Regions from separate parts of the Homo sapiens genome. Here regions 1 and 3 are each linked to region 2. The links come from fine-mapping of genetic effects on gene expression. A gene starts in region 2. Each other region holds a variant in brackets. All regions are shown on one strand. Distances are from middle to middle. Region 1 has its middle 23 kb from the start of ARPC2. Region 2 holds the start of ARPC2 (actin related protein 2/3 complex subunit 2). Region 3 overlaps VIL1 (villin 1).

The links. PIP is the estimated chance that this variant, and not a neighbour inherited with it, causes the effect. A credible set is the group of variants that fine-mapping cannot tell apart.
Region 1: its variant is the best candidate, but not a certain one, in a credible set for the expression of ARPC2 in sigmoid colon (GTEx, PIP 0.51).
Region 3: its variant is the best candidate, but not a certain one, in a credible set for the expression of ARPC2 in naive CD4 T cells (Schmiedel 2018, PIP 0.87).

What each region holds. Positions count from the first base shown.
Region 1 is chr2:218,190,178-218,198,356 of GRCh38, forward strand. No RefSeq gene overlaps it. Among named protein-coding and RNA genes, the nearest start is that of ARPC2, 23 kb to the right of the region's middle. The variant C/T (reference allele first, on the strand shown) is at 3,843.
Region 2 is chr2:218,212,674-218,220,852 of GRCh38, forward strand. ARPC2 (actin related protein 2/3 complex subunit 2) reads left to right here and starts at 4,516. Exons shown (of 11, transcript NM_152862.3): 1 at 4,516-4,581; 2 at 4,790-4,871. The coding sequence starts at 4,798. LOC101928487 (a long non-coding RNA gene) reads right to left here and starts at 4,513. Exons shown (of 2, transcript XR_923908.2): 1 at 4,355-4,513; 2 at 3,428-4,178. RefSeq lists an enhancer at 4,525-5,128 and a silencer at 4,650-4,699.
Region 3 is chr2:218,430,219-218,438,397 of GRCh38, forward strand. It overlaps VIL1 (villin 1), which reads left to right. Exons shown (of 20, transcript NM_007127.3): 10 at 507-660; 11 at 1,639-1,739; 12 at 1,828-1,965; 13 at 2,575-2,733; 14 at 4,308-4,487; 15 at 5,071-5,216; 16 at 6,264-6,408; 17 at 6,906-7,094. Among named protein-coding and RNA genes, the nearest start is that of VIL1, 15 kb to the left of the region's middle. The variant C/CA (reference allele first, on the strand shown) is at 3,979.

The sequences.
Region 1 (8,179 bases), 22 kb before region 2:
AACTTAGTGAATATACACTTAAGATTTGTGCACTTCATTGTCTACAAATTTTACATCAAAAGAAAACACTAAAGGCCAGGTGCAGTGGCTCACGCCTGTAATCCTAGCACTTTAGGAGGCCAAGGTAGGAGGATCACTTGAGGTCAGGAGTTTGAGACCAGCCTGGCCAACATGGTGAAGCCCCGTCTCTACTAAAAATACAAAAATTAGCAGGGCATGGTGGCGCATGCCTGTAATCCCAGCTACTTGGGAGGCTGAGGCAGGAGAATCACTTGAATTTGGGAGGCGGAGGTTGCAGTGAGCCAAGATCGCACCACTGCACTCCAGTGTGGGCAACAGAGACTCCGTCTCAAAAAAAAAAAAAAAACTATAAACAAATATTGATCTCTAATCAATGATGTACACACTGATGTATTTAGGGAGAAGTATACTGGTGTCCACAGTTACTTTGAAACACATCCAAAAGAATAGATTAATGGCTATAGGGATGGATAATGGATAAATATGAGATAAAGCAGGTAAAATGTTAATGGCAGAATCTAGGTAGTAGATGTACAAGTAGACAGTGAAATTCTGTCAACTTTTCTTTTCTCTTTTTTTTTTTTTTTTTTTTTTGAGATGGAGTTTCACTCTTGTTGCCCAGGCTGGAGTGCGATGGCGTGATCTCAGCTCGCTGCAACCTCTGCCTCCTGGGTTCAAGCAATTCTCCTGCCTCAGCCTCCCGAGTAGTTGGGATTACAGGCATGAGCCACCACACCTGGCTAATTTTTTGTATTTTTAATAGACAGCGTTTCTCCATGTTGGTCAGGCTGGTCTCAAACTCCTGACCTCGGGTGATCCACCCACCTCGGCCTCCCAAAGTATTGGGATTACAGGCGTGAGCCACTGCGCCAGGCCCAACTTTTCTTTATGTTTAAAATTGTTCACAATAACATGTTGGGGCTATCAGCTGGCATTGTCTTGGCCAACTTCTTTAACCTGTAACTGGTTGCCACACTTTCTACCCCTCCTTGCCTCATGGCCAGAGTGCTTCACTCATTTACATTACCTAGAGTGTTTCATCCTAGACACATACTGCATATCCTAATGATTGTTAACTAAATCTCTGGAAGAAGCAGAATAGCATTGTAACAATTCTACTATTTACCAGTTTTGTAATCTCGGGAATTTTTTTTTTTTTTTTTTTTTTTTTTTTTTGAGAAGGCGTCTCACTCTGTCGCCCAGGCTGGAGTGCAGTGGCCTGATCTCGGCTCACTACAAGCTCTGCCTCCTGGGTTCAAGTGATTCTTCTACCTCAGCCTCCCAAGTAGCTGGGATTACAGGTGCATACTATCACGCCTGGCTAATTTTTGTATTTTTAGTAGAGATGGGGTTTCACCATGTTGGCCAGGCTGGTCTTGAACTCCTGACCTCAGCTGATCCACCTGCCTCAGCCTCCCAAAGTTCTGGGATTATAGGCATGAGCCACCACACCTGGCCGTGACCTTGGGAAAATTAATTCTCCTCTGAGCCTCGGTTTCCTCATCTGCAGGACGAAGTGAGATGGTGAATGCAAAGTTCCTGGCACACTGGTTGGCACCAGATATATGTTAACTACTGTTAAACAGTTTAATATATTGACTTCGTAAATGCACACAGATAAAATGATGACTGATTTTCACAGTAAGAAACTCCTGAGAGTTTAGACTCACAAGCTAAAGATGGGAATACTGTTTTCCTAAAAATTGCTCTACTTGCTTTCACTACATTTCCTCTCACATAGGAGAAGCTACCTTTATTCAACCCTGTTTAACAAGCACCTACTACTACAAATACTAGGTGAACCTGTGGGCTAAGCACAGTCTCTGCTATAGCGGAGCCACAGGGGTAACTGCAATAATACATGTACGTTCAAGCTGCAGTGACAGCAAGAAAAGCTTCCAGAAAGAGGCAACACTTGAGTTGGGTCTTGCAGGATGAATAGGGATTTTCCAGATAGACCTGGGGAAGGAGGCCTGTCTAGGCACAAAGAACAGCATGTGCAAAGGCATTGAGCAATAACAGAGCAATGGAATCCTCAGAGTTAACAGGCAGTTTGTATTATGAGCAACCAGGGAAGTAGACGAGGCCAGCAAGGGAGGTAGGAACCAAATCATGCCCTGTTTGCCATGCTACAAGAGTTTGGATTTTGCGCTGCAGATAAAGAACCACCAGCATAGTTTAGGAAGATACTTCTACAGCAGAATGGGGCTACACTGACAAGAGAGAGACCTGAAGCAAGGCCAGCCAGGTACTAGTGCTACCCACTGCTCAGAAGAATTGCCTGGGGTACTTGTTAAGTATACAGATTGCAAGGCCCCCTCCAGACCTGCTGAGTCTAGGGGAAGGGCCTGGGAACCTATATGATTAACAGGCATCCCAGGTTTTCTAACAACCAAGAAAACACAGAGTGTAGGAGATTGCGGCCACCATCCTCCGTAGGAGAATAAAGGGAAAGGGGGAGGGGCATGTTACTGTGTAATTAGGGGAAGGAATCTGCATAATGTGGTCAAAGTGTTGTGTGCCAGGGTGAGGAAAGCCTGGCATGACTGCGTAGATAGTTGTACCATTTACCAAGACAGGGAATGCAAGAGAAACAGCAAGTTTAGGGAAAATAAATCATGATTTATTTTTGACAAGGAATTGATCAAAACGTTGGCTCTCAAAGTGTTGTCTTGGCAATGATAAAAACTATTGGTGGTCGCAGCTCCCAGATGCACTTATTTTCTCTTGTGCTTCTCACACAAATCTGTGACTTGAATGGCTCACATCTTCCAACCGTGTTGAGTTATAATCGGGACAATAAATTACACACATAATGTTTGGAAATAGACAAACAGAAAACTAAACATTCCCTAGGTCTCTAAAGCCCAGTGCATGACACAGCCAAGATTTTTGCCTCCTGCCTTTTGACTTAATCCAGGGACAGGGTTGATGGGTAGCATTGACAGGCCCCAGAAGAAACTCAGTCTCTCATATATTTATTCCCTTTGTCCTGTTGGTGCTATTTAGGGAACAAACACTTCCCCTTTAAAGGTGGTAATCTTAAAAATAGGAAGACAGCATGAAAAATGTGTTAGTTGTCAGAAAACCTGGGTTACAGTCACATGGAGTTTGCCAACTTAACCCAACCTCTTGGAACCTCCTTCTCCTCTTTGTAAAATAAGGATAATAATAACTACTGTAAAGAACAAATGAGAAAACAAACTTTAAAATGTGTCCAAGGGCCGGGCACAGTGGCTCACGCCTGTAACCCCAGCACTTGGAGGCCGAGGCAGGCGGATCACCTGAGGTCGGGAGTTCGAGACCAGCCTGACCAACATGGAGAAACCCTATCTCTACTAAAAATACAAAATTAGCCGGGCGTGGTGGTGCATGCCTGTAATCCCAGCTACTCCAGAGGCTGAGGCAGGAGAATTGCTTGAACCCGGGAGGCGGAGGTTGCGGTGAGCCGAAATCGTGCCACTGCACTCCAGCCTGGGCAACAAAAGGGAAACTCTGTCTCAAAATAAAATAAAATGAAATAAAATAAAAAGTGTCCAAAACTCTGCTCCAGGCTGTAAAGAACAGAAACCAACTCCCAGGAGCTCAAGTCAAAAGAGAGTTGATGGAAACATTACAACAGGCAATCTCGCCAACTTGCAAGAACAGGCAATGCAGGACAGCTTGTCACTCAGGAACTGGAGCTGGAAGCCTGACGCTGCTCCCACTGCAGCACTCTCTCTGGGGCCATATGGTCTGCATCTCTGCTTCCCTCTATGGGTCCACGCACTCCCACATGGCAGACGTGGCAGTTGTCTATCCACCATCCATTCCCCTTCCTC[C/T]CTCACTAACAGAACCTCCATTGGATGAGGATGGTCTAAGCCAGTTATGCAACCTATTGCCCACTCTCCCAGCCTTCTTTACACCTAACGGTGGCCATGGATATGATTCTGGTCAATGAGGCTCAAGGAGAAGACTGCTGGGAACTCTGAAAAACCTCACTTTTCCTACCAAAGAGAAAGAAAGACACTGCTTGGCACCCTCTCTCCCTTTTCCTTCCTTTTGCTTGTGACTGCTAGAGCAGCAGCAACCATCATGGAACCATCGGGAGAAGGACAAAAGAACTGGGAAGACAGAAGTCAGCCCTGGACATTGCTGAGCATCCAACCAATATTAGCAAATTTTATGTGTAAAATTACAACACCAAAAAAAAAACCTCACTCCTATGTTTTTAAGCCACTGGGAGTTAGATTTTTGTTACTAGCAGCTGAAGGCACTCTTGATTAATAATACGATCATCTAATTTGGGGTCTTCCAAACTTCCATCATCCTCAAACCACCTTCAGCATTTTTGCCATGCCTGCTCAAATACCATGTTCTTCTTTAAATTGAGTCACTTTTATTAACGTGACTTAAAATAAATATGTAATGATTTAAATTAAAATAGATTCACCATGAATCACCCAAAACCATCCCATTTTTACCAATGGAACACTTTGCAAAAGCAAACCCAGCTCCAGCTATGTCCCTGATGCCCCCACCCTCAATTCCCAGGAGGGAAGGCTCTGGAGCAGGGTCTTCCCCGACTCACATGGCACCTAGGCCCACACACACCTCAGGAACTCTACAGAGATGGAGATGATCAGCAGGTCTGCTGAATAGTAAGACTTACACAGGATTTGTGGTAGTAGTATTAAATGGTCTCATTTCAAAACTAAGATGTTTGCATTTATTTCTAGGGATAAATTAGGGAATACTGGGCAGTCCTTTTTTGTGTTGGTGCAGAGAAAGCTATGTGGCTGGGGAGGAAACAGGAATACCCAGGCCAGCTGTTACCACTGGTCCAGCAAAAGCAGGAAGCTCCTTCAGATGTTCCTGAACACTTTGCTCCGCCCACCTCCCAGCATTCTCTGCTTAGTGTCCATTCAATTATGACAATAACATTTGAAGTCAGTGGAGAAAAGAGAGGTTATGCAACATGTGGTGATAGGATAGTTGGGAAATTATTAGGAAAAAATAGTTATATCCCGAACTCACTCCACTCATACACAGATGCAAAAAAAAATCAGATGGACGAAAGCCTTAAATATAAAAGAATTTATCCATAAACTATGCTACATTCATACAATAGACTATTGTGCAGCAGTCAGTTAGAAAAGGAAGAAGTAAATATATATGTACTGACAAGGAACTATCTAATGTTCAATGAAAAGCAGATTATAGGCCAGGCATGGTGGCTCACGACTATAATCCCAACACTTTGGGAGGCCAAGGCGGGCAGATCACTTCAGGTCAGGAGTTTAAGACCAGTCAGGCCAACGTGGTGAAACCCTATCTCTGCTAAAAATACAAAAATTAGCCAGGTTTGGTGGCCTATGCCTGTAATCGCAGCTACTAGGGAGGCTGAGGCAGGAGAATCACTTGAACCCAGGAGGTGGAGGTTGCAGCGAGCGAAAATCACACCATTGCACTCCAGCCTGGGCAACTAGACTCTATCTCAAAAAAAAAACCAAATTATAAATAACATACATAGAATGATACCATTTATGTTACATGTGTGCATAGATACCCATATGAACATATGAAAGAAATGCATGAATAGAGTCTGAAAGGATAAATCTTAATTGGGTAACAGTCATTCTTTTTTTCATGGAAATGCAGAATTATTTACTTATTAGTTGCATAAGATCAGCTGTTCTATTTAAGTTCACCAAAAAAAAAAAGTATTTCTCATCATCCCTCTTTTTCTCCTCTCTGCTTTTGAAGAGTGTATGAGGGCATTATGAGGAGACAAAGTGATTACATTCAAGGATGTCATTAGGATATAATCATATATTGCCACATATTGCCCATCTAATTTTAAAAAGCGGAAAAGAACAAAACTTAATGAAAAAAGCTGAACTACAAAGTAATAGAGAAAACATGAAAGAATGTTTTATAATTTTAATGTGGTAATCAGCTCTCTTAGCAATATGTCAAAGACAAAGCCATAAGAAAAGAAAAAGATTGACAAATGTGAAACTAAAATCTCTATATGGCAAAGCAAAAGACAATAAAATGGAAAGAAAACATTCGCAACATGATGGAGAAAAAGTACTATTATTAAACTGTGAATTGTTTGGAAATAATAAGAAAATTACAAACCCAGTAGGAAAATGAGTAAAAGGCATAAAGAAGCACTCTATTTTAAAAGAAGACACAAAAATGTCCAAAATTCACACTCAAGATGTTCAACTTCACTAATAATTACAGAAAAGCAAATTAAAATGAGATATTGGCCAAGCACAGTAGCTCACGCCTATAATCCCAACACTTTGGGAGGCTGAGATGAGTGGATCACCTGAGGTCAGGAGTTCGAGACCAGCCTGGCCAACACAGTGAAACCCCATCTCTACTAAAAACACAAAAAATTATCCGGGTGTGGTGGTGGGTGCCTGTAATCCCAGCTACCTGGGAGGCTGGAGCAGGAGAATCACTTGAACCCAGGATGCAGAGGTTGCAGTGAGCCTAGATCGCACCATTGCACTCCAGCCTGGGCAACAAGAGCAAAACTCTGTCTCAAAAAAAAATTAAATTAAAAATAAATAATAAATAAAATGAGATATCATTTTTCACTTAGATGGAGACAATTAAAAAGATTTCTAGTAGCCAGTTGTTGGCAAGGGCGGGACAGAAACAGGTGCACTTCCATTCTGTTGATGGAAGCCTAAACTGGCTTCAGCAGGCAAACTTGGAAGATAAGTATCAAAAGTTGAAATGCGCAGGCATGTTGCCCTCTTCTAGGAATTTAAGAAAAGAATGGTGCACGGTGCAAAGTTGTGTGAACAAGAAGGGTTATTGTACTGAAAAGTTAGAAACAGCCTGAATGCCCATCAACAGGGTTTTGGTTAAATAAATTTATGAGACTCGGAGGTGTTATGGAGACCAGGCAGGTGTTATAAAAGATAAAGAACATCTTTACATATTGACACAAAGCACATAAATGTTCACATGAGAAAAACAGCTTACACAGTTCCACATATCAAGTGATCCTCTTTTGTTTAATATATAACCTACTGGTAAGGCTGACACTTAACAGTTGTTATCCCTGCAGGTTAGAATTTGAGGGAAATTTTCTTTTATCTTTTTTCTTTTTTCTTTTTCTTTTTTTTTGAGACGAAGTTTCGCTCTTGTTGCCCAGGCTGGAGTGCAATGGCAGGATCTCGGCTCACCGCAACCTCTGCCTCCTGGGTTCAAGTGGTTCTCCTGCCTCAGCCTCCCAAGTAGCTGGGATTACAGGCATGTTCCACCATGCCCAGTTAATTTTGTATTTTTAGTAGAGACAGGGTTTCTCCATGTTGGCCAGGCTGGTCTCAAACTCCTGATCTCAGATGATCCACCCGCCTCGGCCTCCCAAAGTGCTGGGATTACAGGCGTGAGCCACCACATCTGGCCAGAAATTTTCTATATTACTGAAACTTTTTACAAACAGCATGTGTCATTTGTATGATAACAAAAGTGAAGATTTCATTTTGAAAATCTAAGGAAGGGATATGCTATTTATGCTGTCCTTTAAGGATTTATTTACCCTTTCGTTTGTTCAACAAATATGAACAGTTTATTACATAGAAGGTAGTGCCTCCAGGACTGAGGTAGAAACAAAAGACAATCGGACCTAAGCCTCTCTCTGCTTCCTGAAACCAAACCAATATTATCACTGCCCCCACCTGACACGCAGACACACAGACACACACACACACACACACACACACACACATACATACATACATACATACGTGCCTTCCTTCTGCCACAAATAAGTTGGTGTCCCTTGGCCACTCCAAACCCAATCCCAACACCTGCATCCTAGAGTCTATCTCCCCATCATTTTTCAGAAGCCTCACACTATTCATTTTTTTCTTTCTTTCTTTCTTTCTTTCTTTCTTTCCTTTCTTTCCTTTTTCTTTCCTTTCTTTCCTTTCTTTCTTTCTCTTTCTTTCTTTCCAACTTTTCCCTCTCTCTTGCATCCACCTAGTCAGCAATGAAAACCTCTTAAGTCTCTTTCATTCTAAATAAAAAGAAGGGAGGGAAGGAAGGCCATTCTGGACAGAATTATTGGGGAGAGAAGCGGGAGGAGGAAGGGGAGAGGAAAGAGATATCCAAGCATATTCTCCAAATTTGTGACTTTTAAACCTTCTTA
Region 2 (8,179 bases):
GCCAGATGTGGTGGCACAAGCCTGTGGTCCCAGCTACTTGGGAGGCTGAGGTGGGAGGTTCGCTTGAGCCCAGGAGGTTGAGGCTGCAGTGAGCTGAGGTTGCCCACTGCACTCTAGCCTGGGCAACAGAGCGATACCCTGTGTCAAAAACAAAACAAAACAAAACAAAAAGTTAAAATGGCTGAAGATAATGCAAGAAGATATTCCACAAAAATAGAAAAACAAAAAACAAACAATGGGTTGGTTTAGAGTTCAGTTTTGCAAGATGAAAAGAAGGTTCTTTTTTTGTGTTTTTTCTTTAAGACTCTGTCGTAAAGGCTAGAGTGCAGTGTCATGATCCTAGCTCACTGCAGCCTAAAACTCCTGGGCTCAAGCAATCTTCCCTGCTTATCCTCCCAAAGTACTGGGATTACAGGCATGAGCCACCATGCTCAGCTCTATGAATTTCTATTTTGAATCAGTGCTCAGTACAACAAATTAAGAAAGTGGTACAATAAAGCAAATCATTCTAAAATTTCTAACCAACAAGTTAAAGAGAGAATCCTAAGGCTTCCACAGATGGGGGAGATGTAACAGACAAAAGGATCAGAAACATGAATAGGAATTATACTTTTTTAATAGCAACCCTAGAAGGTGTAAGAAAATGTAGTATACCATCATTAAAAAGTCAGGAAACAACAGGTGCTAGAGAGGACGTGGAGAAATAGGAACACTTTTACGCTGTTGGTGGGACTATAAACTAGTCCAACCATTGTGGAAGTCAGTGTGGCGATTCCTCAGGGATCTAGAACTAGAAATACCACTTGACCCAGCCATCCCATTACTGGGTATATACCCAAAGGACTATAAATCATGCTGCTATAAAGACACATGCACACATGTTTATCGCGGCACTATTCACAATAGCAAAGACTTGGAACCAACCCAAATGTCCAACAATGATAGACTGGATTAAGAAAATGTGGCACATATATACCATGGAATACTATGCAGCCATAAAAAATGATGAGTTCGTGTCCTTTGTAGGGACATGGATGAAATTGGAAATCATCATTCTCAGTAAACTATCACAAGGACAAAAGAACAAACACTGCATGTTCTCACTCATAGATGGGAATTGAACAGTGAGAACACATGGACACAGGAAGGGGAACATCACACTCTGGGGACTGTTGTGGGGTGGGGGGAGGGGGGAGGGATAGCATTAGGAGATATACCTAATGCTAAATGACGAGTTAATGGGTGCAGCACACCAGCATGGCATATGTATACATATGTAACTAACCTGCACATTGTGCACATGTACCCTAAATCTTAAAGTATAATAATAATAAAAAAATAAATAAATAAAAAAGAAAATGTAGTATACCTTCAAAAAAAAAGGGAAAATTATTTTCAAACTTGAATATCTAGCCCAACAACACATCAAGTGTTAAATAGAAGTAACATATTTTCAAATATGCAAAGATTCTAACAACATATATCCCCCATCTCCCTTTCTTAGGAAGTTATTAGAGGAGATGCTTTAGCAAAACAAGGAAGTAAACCAAGAGGAAGACATGGGATCCAGGAAATGGGCAAAACCACCCCAGAACAACAATGAAGGAAAATTCCAGAATGACAACTGTACAGCAAGTCTAGCGAGCAGCCAGTCCAGATTGAAATAAGAGGAAGGAAGGCTCTGGGACAAAAACTCCAAAGAAAAAGTGGAACTTATATATTGAGTATATGGAAAACATTATTGCTAGACTTTTTGATAGTCTTAGAGCATTTGAGGGGAAAAACCAACTGTAAATACTGTTTACAGAAAATCAGACAGATGAGAGAAAAAAGGCAATAATTAACCCTAAGAAAAATGAAGGGCCATGTAAACTAGAAGTCATGATTATAGTGCATTTCTTGGCTCATCAGTAAACAATATTTGCATACATAATAATTTTAATACAGCTAGGTGCAGATTATTGGTTTTACCAAAAGTTATTACGCAGCTATATATGGTGGGAAGCAGAAGTGATAGAGTCAAGTTCTTATCTACCGTGTCAGGAAGTCAACACATAATGCTAAAAATTCACAAACCAAAAAATAATGGTATAAACATTTACTTAGAAACATGAAGGTAGGCCGGGCACGGTGACTCACACTTGTAATCCTAGCACTTTAGGAGGCTAAGGCAGGCGGATCGCTTGAGTTCAGGGGTTCGAGGCCAGCCGAAGCAACACGGTGAAACCCTGTCTCTACTAAAAATACAAAAATTAGCTGGACATATTGGTGGCCACCTGTAGTCCCAGCTAGTTGGGGTCTGAGGCCGGAGGATTGCTTGGGCCCAGGGAAATCGGGGCTTCAGTGAGCCAAGAGTGTGCCACTGCACACCAGCCTAAGTAACAAAGTGAAACCCTATCAGAAAGAAAGAAAGAAAGAAAAAGACAGAGAGAGAAAGAAAGAAAGAAAGAAAGAAAGAAAGAAAGAAAGAAAGAAAGAAAGGGATTATGAAGGTAAATATCAGGATGAATTTGTGAAAGAGTTGAGCATATTGCCTCCAAAGAGTAGGACAGGGAACTGCTTTTTTCATTACAAGCCTTTTAGTATTATAAGCATACATATTTTAAACAATTTATAAACATTATTTTAGTTCAATAGTCATTAATGTTACAAAGCTAGCTTATCGGTCGGGCATGGTGGCTCACGCCTGTAATCCCAGCACTTTAGGAGGCTAAGGCAGGTGGATCACTTGAACCCAGGAGTTTGAGACCAGCGTGCCCAATACGGCCAAACCCCGTCTCTACAAAATATACAGAAATTAGCCCAGCTTGGTGGTGCATGTCTATAGTCCCAGCTATTTGGCAGGCCGAGGCAGGAGGATCACCTGAGCTCGGGAGGCGGGCAGTGAGCAGAGATAGCAACGTCACTCCAGCTTGGGTGACAAGAGTGAGACACCATCTCAAATTAAAAAAAAAAAAAAAAAAAGGCCGGGCATGGTGGCTCACGCCTGTAATCCCAGCACTTTGGGAGGTCGAGGCAGGAGGATCATGATGTCAGGAGTTCGAGACCAGCCTGACCAACATAGTGAAACCCCGTCTCTACTAAAAATACAAAACATTAAAAGGGCATGGTGGCAGGCACCTTTAATCCCAGCTATTTGGGAGGCTGAGGCAGGAGAATCGCTTGAACCGGGGAGGCAGAGGTTGCAGTGAGCCGAGATCATGCCATTGCACTCCAGCCTGGGCAAGAGTGCAAGACTCTGTCTCAAAAAAAAAAAAATTTAAGTTAGCGTATAATTTTAGGGGATCAGCAATATCCTGAAGCTTATCCATAGCCCGTTAAGTAATGTTTCAAAGGGCTATCTGTGCCTTAATGATAGGAGCTAGTTTCTTGTTCATTTTTTTATCCCCATCCCCAAACACATAGCAGAAAATAAATTATTTCCTTGTATGTAGAACGGACTCAGCTAAGTTTATTATATTCTCCCCGGAGGAGGGAAAACACAAAACAAGGCACAAAGGCAGAAGGTGCAGATGTAGCACAACGATGAGTTAAGATTCCGCACGCAGGTAACAAGGAGGGTATGGTATATCTCTGCCAGAGGTACTGGAAGGTTTCAAAGGCAGAAAAAAATGTGTTCCGGACACCTGGACGCAGAATTGGAGGCATGACAGGAACACAGGGAGGCCCATCTAAGTTGCCTATTCACCCAGGTGACCTCTCTTTCATTTCTTTAATTGTCCTTTTAACAATATGGGGAATTTCACCCAAGGAAAGGGTCCTCTTCTCGCCCCAGCAGGCAAGGGGTGTTCCTCCAGCGCAAGTTCCGGCCCCAGCTGCCCCCACGTCCCACAGGTCTCCTGCCTTTTGGCACGCACACTCCTGACCACTCGCTGCTTCCGCATCCCTACTCTGATCCTCTCCCCATGCATCTCTGCCTCCTTAGACAACTGAGAATTTTATTGTCTGTTTCCTTTGCCAGACTGTAAGTTCCACGAGGGCAGGGCCTCGTCCATTTCATTTACCACTACATCCCCAGTATAGAGCAAGAGCCCATGAAAATGTTTGTTGGAGAAATGAATGCATGATGGTGTCGCTGGACAGCTATACCTGGAAAGAAAAAGAGGCACCCCCATCAAACAAGCTGGGAGCTAAGAAGCCCGCTGGGAGACGACAAGGGCGAGCTTCTTGCGAGGTTTCTGAAATGACAAGACCGGAAGAATGGAGTTGGATCTCTGGGACAAGCGGGAGAGAGAAGCTGAACAGTCAGGCAAGCCTCGGGGAATGACAGCTCCGCGGGGGACGCACTGGTAGGCGGTAGACGTAAGCGGGGTCGGTGGGAAAGTAGACGGTGGGGCGGCGGCATCACACATACGCAAGCGCAGCCTCCGTTTCCTCCGGCGCGCCTGCGCTCGCGTTCACGAGTGGTTGAAGCGGAAATGGCGCCGCGGGGCCGCGCGTCCAGGCGGCGAGCGGAAGTGGGTGTGAGAGCGGAAGTGGCCGGCTAGAGCCGGGGGCTGGGCGGGGACCGGGCTTGTCGGTGAAGCGGCAGTGGCGGCGGCGGCGGCGGCTCGGCAGGCGGGTTCAGGCTTCGGGGGCCAGGTCGGTTGGGTGGGTGGGTGTCTCCACAGTCTGCGTGCGTGGGCCAGCGCGTTCGTCTTACCCTTCCCTCCACCCCGGCCCCTCTCCCCTTCTCCCCTAACCTCCTACCCCACCCAGCCCCACTCAGGGGGCAGCAGGGCCGCTCCCTCCGTCCTTGCCTCCCTTACCCACCCTCACCGGCCCTTGTTTCTCCTTCCCCTGGGGGCAGCCGCCGCCATGATCCTGCTGGAGGTGAACAACCGCATCATCGAGGAGACGCTCGCGCTCAAGTTCGAGAACGCGGCCGCCGGGTGAGCGCGCGCCCGGGGCCGGGGGTGGCGGGGGAAGCAGAGTTGACCCCAGCTAATCCCCAATGTTGTCCAGTCCCCCAGACCTGGAGGAGAGAAATGGGGTGCCTGGCAGGGTGTAGGGGCTGCCCCAGCGGGGTAGACGTGGGAGGCGATTGGGCGCGGCCGGGCGAGGGGCAGAGATGCGTGGGGAGAGGCTCAGAGGAGGGATGCGGAAGCAGCGAGTGGTGAGGGCTGTGCGTGCCAAAGGGCAGGAGACCTGTGGGACGTGGGGGACCCTGGAGCCGGAACTCGCTCCGGAGTAGCCCCCTGCCCTCTGGGGCGAGAAGGGGACCCCTTCCCTGCGTGAAATTCCCCGGCATTGTTCTGAACCCAGAGAGAGCCTGTTTGGAATTGGGTTGGAAGGAGTTTTCAGGAATTCCCAGGACTGGAGGAGGGAAGGAGATGCAGGCCCACATCGCCACCAGCATTCTCGTTCCCCACCCCCATCTCCTTTAAAAGGAGCAGAAGAGAAGACTAAAAGCCGACCCAGTCTTAGAGCCGGAAAAACGCGATCTCTGGTTTCCCTTCCCCGAACCCTTCTGTGAGAGACACTGGGCCATTTTGTTACATATTTTTAAAGCAAAGCCAATTGTCCCTCGCTCCACACCCCTTCCTTATCTCTCCTTTGAGGTTCTAATGCTCTCTCCTCACCCACTAGCCTTTATCTGGTTATCTTGTAAATTCTTACATCAAGACCCTAGGTCTGTGATTTCTTCTGTGGTAGCCCTGGCCCAGTTACACACTTCAAAGACTCCAGAATCTATAAAGTTCTTAGATAACCTGTCTTTACGATTGGACTTTTTAAAAGATGGGCTTAGGGCATCTTTCCAAGGCAGCCTCTCTGCCAAACACAAGAATCAGTAGAAGACAATCTGCTCCTCCAAAGCTGCTTTGCTTTTCTAGTATAATATTTAAAACATGAGCTAAGGATTTTGGGTTCTAATTTTTGGTGGCCTGTGGCCAGTCCCTTTGCCTCATTTCCCTATGTATGAGCATGGGGCTTCACATCTGGGTTTCACAGTTAATAAGTGCAGACCGTTTCTGGTGAACTGGGAACTAGTAATAGGAAAGTGCTTGCAGATCCACAGATGGGAGAAGATTGGTAGAGGGGAATTTTTAAGTGGTCATAATGTACTTGTGGCTTGGAGGCATTAGAAAGTATTAACTGCCATTTAAATTGAATATATAGTATGTCCTGTCTCCTTTATAAGGCCACAGATTTTATCTGTAAAACAAAGCACTACTTTCCTTGAAGTAATACGTGTAGTGAGCAGTACTGTTTCCTGCCAGGGGCTGCAGTTGGTTATATTTGAGGCTGACTTGCTTCTTTCTTGTCTTAGCCTCTCTTACCAGTTTCTTTGCATTTTAAATATTCAAATGAATCAGCCCAGAGTCTTATTTTGGGTGATTGCTGTATACTTTTTTCTGAGCAGTGTAACACATAGGAGGAAGTTGAATTAACTTCTGCATTTTCATAACTGATCTTAATGCATTCTCAGGTCCAGACTAGCAAAGAATGAGACCTGGGCGGTTATAAGCTGATCTACAAGATAAATGGCTGTGTATTTTCAAGTAGAGGCATGTCTTTTAACATAGGAGTACATTCTCATCTATTTGTGTATTAATGACTTGTGATTCCAAAATGTGGCCCATTATTCGGAACTTCAGTTCTTTCTTTTTCTTTTAGAAAATTATTCTTAAAAAGAGAAGCTAACCATTTCGGAGGGATTAAATAGGCCCTCAAGTCTGGAAGACATAAGTTAGAACTTCCAGGACTTTTTTTTTTTTTTCCGAGACAGAGTCTCTCACTGGCTGGAATGCAGTGGCGCGATCTCTGCTCACTGCAACCTCGCCCTCCCAGGCTCAAGTGAGTCTCATGTCTCGGCTTCCCAAGTAGCTGGGATTACAAGCACGTGCTACCACACCTGGCTAATATTTGTATTTTTAGTAGAGATGGGGTTTCACCATGTTGGCCAGGCTGGTCTCAAACTCCTGGCCTCAAGTGACCCGCCCGCCTCGGCCTCCCAAAGTGCTGGGATTACAGCACTGCTCCTTTCCTCAGGACATTTTTTACAAAGATATGCATTGTAGGGAAGCTGTATAGGGGGTGCACTGGTGTGTATGCTTGTGCACATGTGCGGGTGTATGTGTGTATAAATCTAGGCTTTTATTCTGGCCCATCTCCCCCTTTGAGATGTGGTTTTCAATAAGCAGGCTCAAAACATTCTGCTGAAAATTTGAAACTTTGAAAATCTTTAAAAAAAAAGAGACCATGATATTGTGCCTGGTAGGCAGGGCTCTCCTGGGATTACAGATGTATCACCCAGTAGAAGCCCGAATGAAGCAAATGTAAATTATCAGACATTCCAGTAAGGTAAGGCAAGGTGCATGCCTATTCCAGAACTTACAGCAGAGTTTGCCTAGTGTGGTTATCATAAACATGTATGGGATTCTACCAGTGCTCAGCCCAGGCAGCAACAGAAAAAAAGGGGCCTCTCTGAGAGCCTATTAGCCAAGTTAGGGAGGTGCTAAGGGGTGAAAGGTGTTGGGGTGGAGATCAGAGAAAGACATTAAAGGGAGTAGTTTGGAGGAGAAACCCTGGAGATTTGAAAGGCTTTGCTGGTGTGGGAACCTGCTAGGAGAGGTCAGCTCCACCCTACTTTTTGCACTTCTCAGAATAAACCGATGGGGGAAATTACAGTTCGGAGCAGCCTTTTCCAGAGTGCATCTTCCATCTCTGTGATGTCCAATAAGATAGCCATACAAAGTGGCTGGCTAAATTTAAGTAAAAATTAAGTTGAAATAAAATTGAGTTCCTCGGTCACACTAGCCACATTTCTGGTGCTCATTTGCCACATGTGGCTGGTAGCTGTTGTATTTAGCACAGACATGGAACATTTCCATTATTGCAAAGTTCTATTAGCACTGTTCCAGCTTCTGAAAATGAAAGCATGAGATGGTCTTAAAAATAGTTCTGTGGCATATACTTCAGAATATAGTTGCATTAATTTTCCATTTGAAGTTGATTTTTTTTTTTTTTAATGATTCCTCTCAGATCATCCTGCTGGATCTTCTCACCAGTGGCCTCCTACTAAAAGTATCAGCTTTCTTTTGGGTAAAGCAGTGTTGTCATCTAAACTGTTTAAGAATACATTTGATCATAACCTTTTAATTTGGAGGCAGTTTGACAAAGCCTAAGGTTCATTCCAAACAGATTGCTTTTTAATTTTTTCCTACACACTTCTGGGAAGTGGCTTATTGAAACAACT
Region 3 (8,179 bases), 220 kb after region 2:
CCCTGCACCTGAGCTGAGTTTGGAGAAGGGAAGGAGAAATGGAGGGAGGCTGGCTTCCTACAAAAGGGGATTGGGTCAGCTCAGACCAGGGCCAAGTCAGAGTTTGGGGTCATTGCTGGGGCTGGAGTCGTAACCCTAACTGGCTTGGGGCCAGTGTTGGATTGGGGACTGGGCATTAGGATTAGCATTGAGGTAGGGTCACATTAGGCGTTAGATTTGGCTTTGGGATTGGGGTCAGAGTTGTGTTTCGGTATTAGATTTGAAGCTGAGGTCAGAGTGAGTCTTGAGGCCAGTGTTAGGTTTCAGGCGGTATCAGATTTGACCTTGAGGCTGGGGTCAGAGTAGGGTTAGGTTGGGGATTAGCATTGGGATTGGGTTTGGGTTCAGTTTTGGTGCCGGGGTAGATCTGATGGTGGATCTGGTTAGGTTAGAGCTAGGTTTTGGCTTGCATTGGGAGTGGGGACTAGGGGAGGTGCATAGCTTCCAGCCACCCCTTTCTCTTCCAGAACTTCATCAAAGCCAAGCAGTACCCACCAAGCACACAGGTGGAGGTGCAGAATGATGGGGCTGAGTCGGCCGTCTTTCAGCAGCTCTTCCAGAAGTGGACAGCGTCCAACCGGACCTCAGGCCTAGGCAAAACCCACACTGTGGGCTCCGTGGGTGAGGGCCAGGCGGGGGCAGTGAGGGAGCCAGGATCCAGGAGCTGGGCCAGGAGAGCCACTTGGTCCACCACCCACCCTCCTTCCCTGACGTGCATCTTCAACGAAGACTTTTACGCTGGCTCTGGGCTTGTCCTAGCAGATGGGGACGTGGACAAACTCTAGTTGTCACAAAAAGGGAGCTGAGAGGGCTGGGCATGGTGGCACATGCCTGTAATCCCAGCACTTTGGGAGGCTGAGGCGGGTGGATCACCTGAGGTCAGGAGTTTGAGATTAGCCTAACATGGTGAAACCCCGTCTCTACTGAAAAAAAGAACTAATAAATTAGCCAAGCATGGTGGTGCATGCCTGTAACCCCAGCTACTCAGAAGGCTGAGGCTGGAGAATCGCTTGAATTCAGGAGGCAGAGGCTGCAGTGAGCCAAGATCATGCCATTGCACTCCAGCCTGGGCAACAAGAGCGAAACTCCATCTCAAAAAAAAAAAAAAAAAAAAAAGGGGAGCTGTCAGTGATGTGATATTTCATTTGGGATGGGGTTGGGCCTCCCTGAAAACCGAACAGCTTCAGTCTCTTACCAGCCAGTATTTGCTGAGGGCAAGCTCGGTGCCCAGCACCTAGGAGAGGACAAGTAATAGTGTACAGCCCCCAACATTGCACAGCTCCCTATTGAGCTGGGAGACAAGGTCAAGGCTTGAAGTCTGAATGCTGCAGGGGTCAGGACGTAGATCAACAAAGCTAAAGCCTTGCTCTTATGCCTCTCCTGGCTCCCTGGGAGCAGGAGTTTTAGAGGGAGGGAGATGTGGTTCTCTATTGTAGCTCTGCCACATTCTGTGCAACCAGGTAAGCTACTGAATCTCTCTTGCCTCGGTTTCCTCATCTGAAAATGAGTCTAAGAATTGTAGCCACCATTCAGGGCTGTTGTGAGGACCTGGGAGACCTCAGCTGGTGACAGTTGGTTTCATGATTTCCCCCACTCTAGCCAAAGTGGAACAGGTGAAGTTCGATGCCACATCCATGCATGTCAAGCCTCAGGTGGCTGCCCAGCAGAAGATGGTAGATGATGGGAGTGGGGAAGTGCAGGTATGTGAGGGCAGAGAGGCCCGTGCTGGGTGGAGCAGGAATGGTGGAGCCTGTCCTGGACCTCACCCTGGCCTGATACTGGCCCTAGGTGTGGCGCATTGAGAACCTAGAGCTGGTACCTGTGGATTCCAAGTGGCTAGGCCACTTCTATGGGGGCGACTGCTACCTGCTGCTCTACACCTACCTCATCGGCGAGAAGCAGCATTACCTGCTCTACGTTTGGCAGGTCAGGTCCCGCCACGTCCCACCCAGAGCACAGCCGGCTTAGCTCTGCCTTGTACATACTCCTGCTAAGTGGCCATCACCCTTGGGTTGAATACCTCTGGGGATGGGGTGCTCACCCCTTCAAGAAGGACTGCTTTGGCTATGAGGTCCCGCTAGTACCCCCATTCACAGCCCTTTTCCTTTTGGTTCTCTGAGTCTCCCTTCCAATTTTCATTGCCTTCTGCACATTCTTGTCACCTGCTCTGCCCATGGGTTTTTGTGTCTAGATGCGAGGGAGCAGGGAGTGTGTCTAGGACTGAGTGGTGTGGTGCCTGTGATGTCTCCCTGAAGAAGGAGCAGAAAGGAAAGGAGGAGGTTTGGGGTTAAGGCTGGGGTTGCAGGTAGGTCAGGGCTGGGCTGGGTCTGGGAAAGAATTAGGTTTGAGGTTGAGATCAGAACTGAGGTATGGTTCAGATTGGGGTTTTGGCTGTTTCACAGTGGAGTTTGGTGGGGAAGACAATTGGGTTTAGGACCAGTTCAGACTTGAGGATGGAGTTGTTGCTGAGGCTGAGGATGGGGTCAGAATTGGGGGCTGACCCAATCCCACTCACTCCCTCCTGCTCATCCCCAGGGCAGCCAGGCCAGCCAAGATGAAATTACAGCATCAGCTTATCAAGCCGTCATCCTGGACCAGAAGTACAATGGTGAACCAGTCCAGATCCGGGTCCCAATGGGCAAGGAGCCACCTCATCTTATGTCCATCTTCAAGGGACGCATGGTGGTCTACCAGGTGTGGCTGCTGAACTGAGGTGTCTGGCAGTAACCACTGTGGCAAGACAGGCATCCGGGAGATGGAGAAGGGGATGGGTGGTGGGAGCAGGGCTTGAGGTGAAGCCCATTCTTCATAGGAGACTACCCTGGAGGTTCTATCACCTATGTGGAACTGGTAATAGAAACAACCCATTTGGTTACTTTAGAAATACGTGTAATTGGGCCGGGCATGGTGGCTCACGCCTGCAATCCCAGCACTTTGGGGGGCTGAGGCGGGTGGATCACCTGAAGTCAAGAGTTCAAGACCAGCTTGACCAACATGGTGAAACCCCATCTCTACAAAAATACAAAAATTAGCCAGGCATGATGGTGGGTGCCTGTAATCTCAGCTACTCAGGAGGCTGAGGCAGAAGAATCTCTTCAACCTGGGAGGCGGAGGTTGCAGTGAGCCGAGATTGTGCCAATGCACTCCAGCCTGGGCAACAGAGGGAGACTCCATCTTTAAAAAAAGAAAAAAAAAAAATGCCGGTTGCGGTGGCTCTCACCTGTAATCCCAGCACTTTGAGAGGCTGAGGTGGGTGGATCACCTGAGGTCAGTAGTTCAAAATGAGGGCATGCAATGCAGGGGGCACAGCAAGGACAAGGGCCTGGGGGAGAGGCTCCCTGGGGAACATCAGAAGCCTGGTGGAACTGGCCAGGCATGGTGGTTCACGCCTGTAATCCCAGCACTTTGGGAGGCAGAGGTGGGTGGATCACCTGAGGTCAGGAGTTCGAGAGCAGCCTGGCCAACATGGCAAAACTCTGTCTCTACTAAAAATACAAAAATTAGCCAAACGTGGTAGTGCACACTTGTAATCCCAGCTACTGGGGAGGCTGGGGCAGGAGAATGGCTTGAACCTGGGAGACGCTGAGTCAGGATCACACCATTGCACTCCAGCCTGGGCAACAGAGCGAGACTCCGTCTCAAGGAAAAAAAAAAAAAGGCTAGGCGCTGTGGCTCACAACTGTAATCCCAGCACTTTGGGAGGCCAAGGCGGGCGGATCTCCTGAGGTTGGGAGTTCGAGACCAGCCTGACCAACATGAAGAAACCCCGTCTCTACTAAAAATATAAAAATTAGCCGGGCGTGGCAGTGGGTGCCTACAATCCCAGCTACCCAGGAGGCTGAGGCAGGAGAATTGCTTGAACCCAGGAGGCAGAGGGTGCAGTGAGCTGAGATAGTGCCATTGCACTCCAGCCTGGGGAACAAGAGCAAAACTCCGTCT[C/CA]AAAAAAAAAAAAAAAGCCTGGCAGAGCTAGCTGGAGGGTTTGATGGCAGCAGTGTCTGCAAAGGCAGTTTGCATCTTCGTCATGTGGGGCCTTCAAAGGCAAAGCTGAGGAGCTGGGCTTTAGGCTAGAAGCAATGGGGAGTCACTGAACATTTTTGAAAAGAGAAACGCTGTGATGCAAACAATGTTTTAGAAAGACCTGGTGACGGAGCATCAGAGGAGCTCAGGGGCAAACCTCCCCGCCCTACCCTATCCCCCTCTGTTCCCCATCATCTTCTTTACTAAGTGACTCCTGACTCTCTCTCCCTGTCTTCTGCCCTCACCTGCAGGGAGGCACCTCCCGAACTAACAACTTGGAGACCGGGCCCTCCACACGGCTGTTCCAGGTCCAGGGAACTGGCGCCAACAACACCAAGGCCTTTGAGGTCCCAGCGCGGGCCAATTTCCTCAATTCCAATGATGTCTTTGTCCTCAAGACCCAGTCTTGCTGCTATCTATGGTGTGGGAAGGTGTGTTCAGGGTCTAGAGGCCTCCCCATCCGCAAGTGGGTCCTGGGAGTCCCCCAGTTTCGCAGCAGCCCTAGGTCAGGGCAGGAACCCCTGGCCAACTAAGTTGTGCCTGCTCAATTCTCAGCCGCCTCTGGAGCCCAGTCTCTCCCTCCTCAGTAGCTCTGGGTCTATCCTTCTGCCTCATCAATGACCATCCTCAGATTCTCTGCCTCTCTGTCGGAGTCAGTCTCTCTTGTTCTGTTTCTCTGGCCACCTCCATCTGTCCCTGTGTTGGTCTGTCTTTATGTCTTGGGCTCTCTCTCACTACCCTGAGCCTGTCACTGCCTCTCCTTTGATCTCTGTAAGAAGAATGCATAGCCTCTTGGAGTCCCTCTCGAACCTTGAAAAGACTCTCTAGTTTCTTCTGCTATTCTTTGGAGTGTCAAGGACAGAAGAAAGCATGGAATTGTCCCTGTGTGGCCTGTATACACAAGGTCCTGACCCAGGAGAGCCCTCTTTGACCCCTGAACTCTGGGCAGTGAATGTAGTAGGAGGGTGGAGGTAGGGGTGGCACTAGAAATTAGCCAACTCTTTTTTTTCCTAGGGTTGTAGCGGGGACGAGCGGGAGATGGCCAAGATGGTTGCTGACACCATCTCCCGGACGGAGAAGCAAGTGGTGGTGGAAGGGCAGGAGCCAGCCAACTTCTGGATGGCCCTGGGTGGGAAGGCCCCCTATGCCAACACCAAGAGGTAACTCTCAGGTCCCTCCGCCTCCAGGTTACCAAGGTGGGGGAGCCGCCCAGCATCTCCATCCCTACACCCAGAGCCTACAGCAGGCATGGACTGAGGACTCTGTGTGTCAGGCACTGTGCCAGACCCCCAGGGCTACAAGATGAATAAAGGGCAGCCCATACCCTTGGAGCCTCTTGGCACAGGGGCTGTGTCTGTGCTGCTCACTACAGTATGCCCAGGACCTGGTGGGGTATTTCCTTGGCAAAGGGAATTCCTGGCCATAGGAGGCAGCTCAAAGCAAGGGGCAGGGCTAGAGGTTTGCCTTTCAGTAACAAGATGCCAGAGGCCAGCCTGCTTTTAGGTCCTGACACAGGCCTGGGATGCTGAGGAGCCCCAGCCACAAGCCCTCTTTCAAATGGTTTTGTTTTGTTTTTGTGACAGAGTCTCGCTCTGTCAACTAGGCTGGAATGCAGTGGTGCAATCTCAGCTCACTGCAGCCTCTGCCTCCGCCTCCCAGGTTCCAGCAATTCTCCTGCTGCAGCCTCCTGCGTAGCTGAGATTACAGGCGCCCACCACCGTGCCCGGCTAATTTTTGTATTTTTAGTAAAGACAGGGTTTCACCATGTTGGCCAGGCTGGTCTTGAACTCCTGACCTCAGGTGATCCACCTGCCTCAGCCTCCCAAAATGCTAGGATTACAGGTGTGGGCCACGGTGACTGGCTCAAATGGTTTTTCTAGAGAATATCCATGATCTACTAGTCCCTAGTTCAAAAGCAAAAGGGCATGTACTGTAGTAGCAGTAGGAGGGATGGAGGGAAGATATCAGGAAGAACTTCCTAACAAGGCTCTGCAAAAGACACTGGAATGCATGTCCAGAAAGCAGTGACAATTTCTTCCTCAGAGCACTCTTGGAATGAGAGGGGACCCTTTTATCAATCAGAAGATAGAGCATTTTGCTGGAGATGACCTTTCTATGCCAGAGTCCCTTCCTCAGAGTTCTGTGTCCTCAATTCTCCTTTTGCCACACCTTCCTTCTGCCAGTACAATCTTCTCTCCATCCTGCAGACTACAGGAAGAAAACCTGGTCATCACCCCCCGGCTCTTTGAGTGTTCCAACAAGACTGGGCGCTTCCTGGCCACAGAGATCCCTGACTTCAATCAGGATGACTTGGAAGAGGATGATGTGTTCCTACTAGATGTCTGGGACCAGGTAGGACCAAGGGCCTGGGGACCCCTCTTCCCAGCCACCTCAATCCCCAGGGCCAAGAAAGAGTGGCTTTAAGGTTAGGTAAGTGTCAATGTTTTCTTGGCCCTTACATAATTTCTCCCTGGAAATGGTATGAACACCAGAAGTGTAAGAAAGAAGGAAGGTGGGGAGGAACATGCTCAGAGGGGCTGCAGGGAAGAACGTATTCTCTCCCAAAGTCCTATTTATTTCACATGGCAGCAGGAGTGTTTTTGAGAATCCTGGGCTTTGGACAGTCTGGGAGACACACATTTGCAGAATATCCAAGTACAAGGCATCTGTCCAACCTTCTAATTTCCCAGATACAAATTCAAGGCCAGATGATGCCTGCCCTAGGTCATTTGGCTGGTAGTGGTAGAGTCAGGGTCAAGGTCAGGGTTTCACTGTTGGACAACTGAGGCAGAGCCCTGTGGGCCAGGGAGGACAGGAAGGATGGACTGATCCCCTGGGTTTCTCAATAGGTCTTCTTCTGGATTGGGAAACATGCCAACGAGGAGGAGAAGAAGGCCGCAGCAACCACTGCACAGGAATACCTCAAGACCCATCCCAGCGGGCGTGACCCTGAGACCCCCATCATTGTGGTGAAGCAGGGACACGAGCCCCCCACCTTCACAGGCTGGTTCCTGGCTTGGGATCCCTTCAAGTGGAGTGTGAGTGGCCTCATCCCAGCATGTCCTTCTCTAGCCCTGCCTGGAGATCAGTGCTGATTCCTGCAGGCCATTCTGTCTCTTTGGGATATATGACCTGCTGATTTAGAAAGGGGCTAGAGGAGGCTTAGAATAGAAAGTAAGGCTGCACTAAGGCCATTAGGCCTCTGGTGAGAGGGAAGAAGTCTATCAAAAACCAAGGCTAATTATAGTGCCTTGTTTGTGCACTACATTTAGAGCAAAGCTGCTGGATAGTATAGGTAAGAAATGTACTGATTACTTAAATTAAAATTAAACACAGTTCAAAATTCAGTTTGTCACTAGCCACATGTGGCAGCTGGCTACTGTGTTGGGCAGCAGAGGTGAGAATGTTCTCATCATTGCAGCAACATGGTGGATCCTCCATGCCAGCTGAAACACGTTGGTTCTAAAGGACTGACAAATGTCTTCCTGGTGCTAAATTCTAAGCAAAATGGGTCATGTGTGTGGTCCTTACCTGAGGGATGGTGTGCCAACCTCCCACGGGGTGTTTCCTAAACTGGCCCCACATAGAAGCAAGGGGCAGATACCCACAATGGAACTCCAGCAAAGGTTTTCGGTAGGAAGAAGGCCAAGGTACAGTGAAGCCTGGCCTGGTGGCTCTGGGTGCTCTAAATTGTCACAACAGATGGCTTTAGGGAAGCAGAAAGCTTAATTTCCTTAAATTTGTTGGTTTGTTTTTTTAAATTCTGCAGTTAGATGGGCTTTTAGTTTTTACTCAAGGCAGCATATCGAGATGCCAGGTTTTCTCAATCCACTTTAGTTATCACCTTTCCCTCACCTCAAGTGTGTGCTGGCTTCTCTCTCAGCCTCATTCACTCATTCATTCATTCATTCATTCAGCATAAGTGTGCTCTAGGATATGGAGATGGGACTCCTCAGAGCCATGGTCCCTTCACTCCTCTGTGGCAGGGCTCCCTTCTATTATCTGGGGGGACCCCCACCCATCCCCAGGAGCCCTGCATTTCCCAGAGCCTACATAGCCTAGGCAGGGTTCTCCATACTGCCTGTGGGTTCTTGCCCTGGCCCCTGCAGGTGGCAAAAGATCC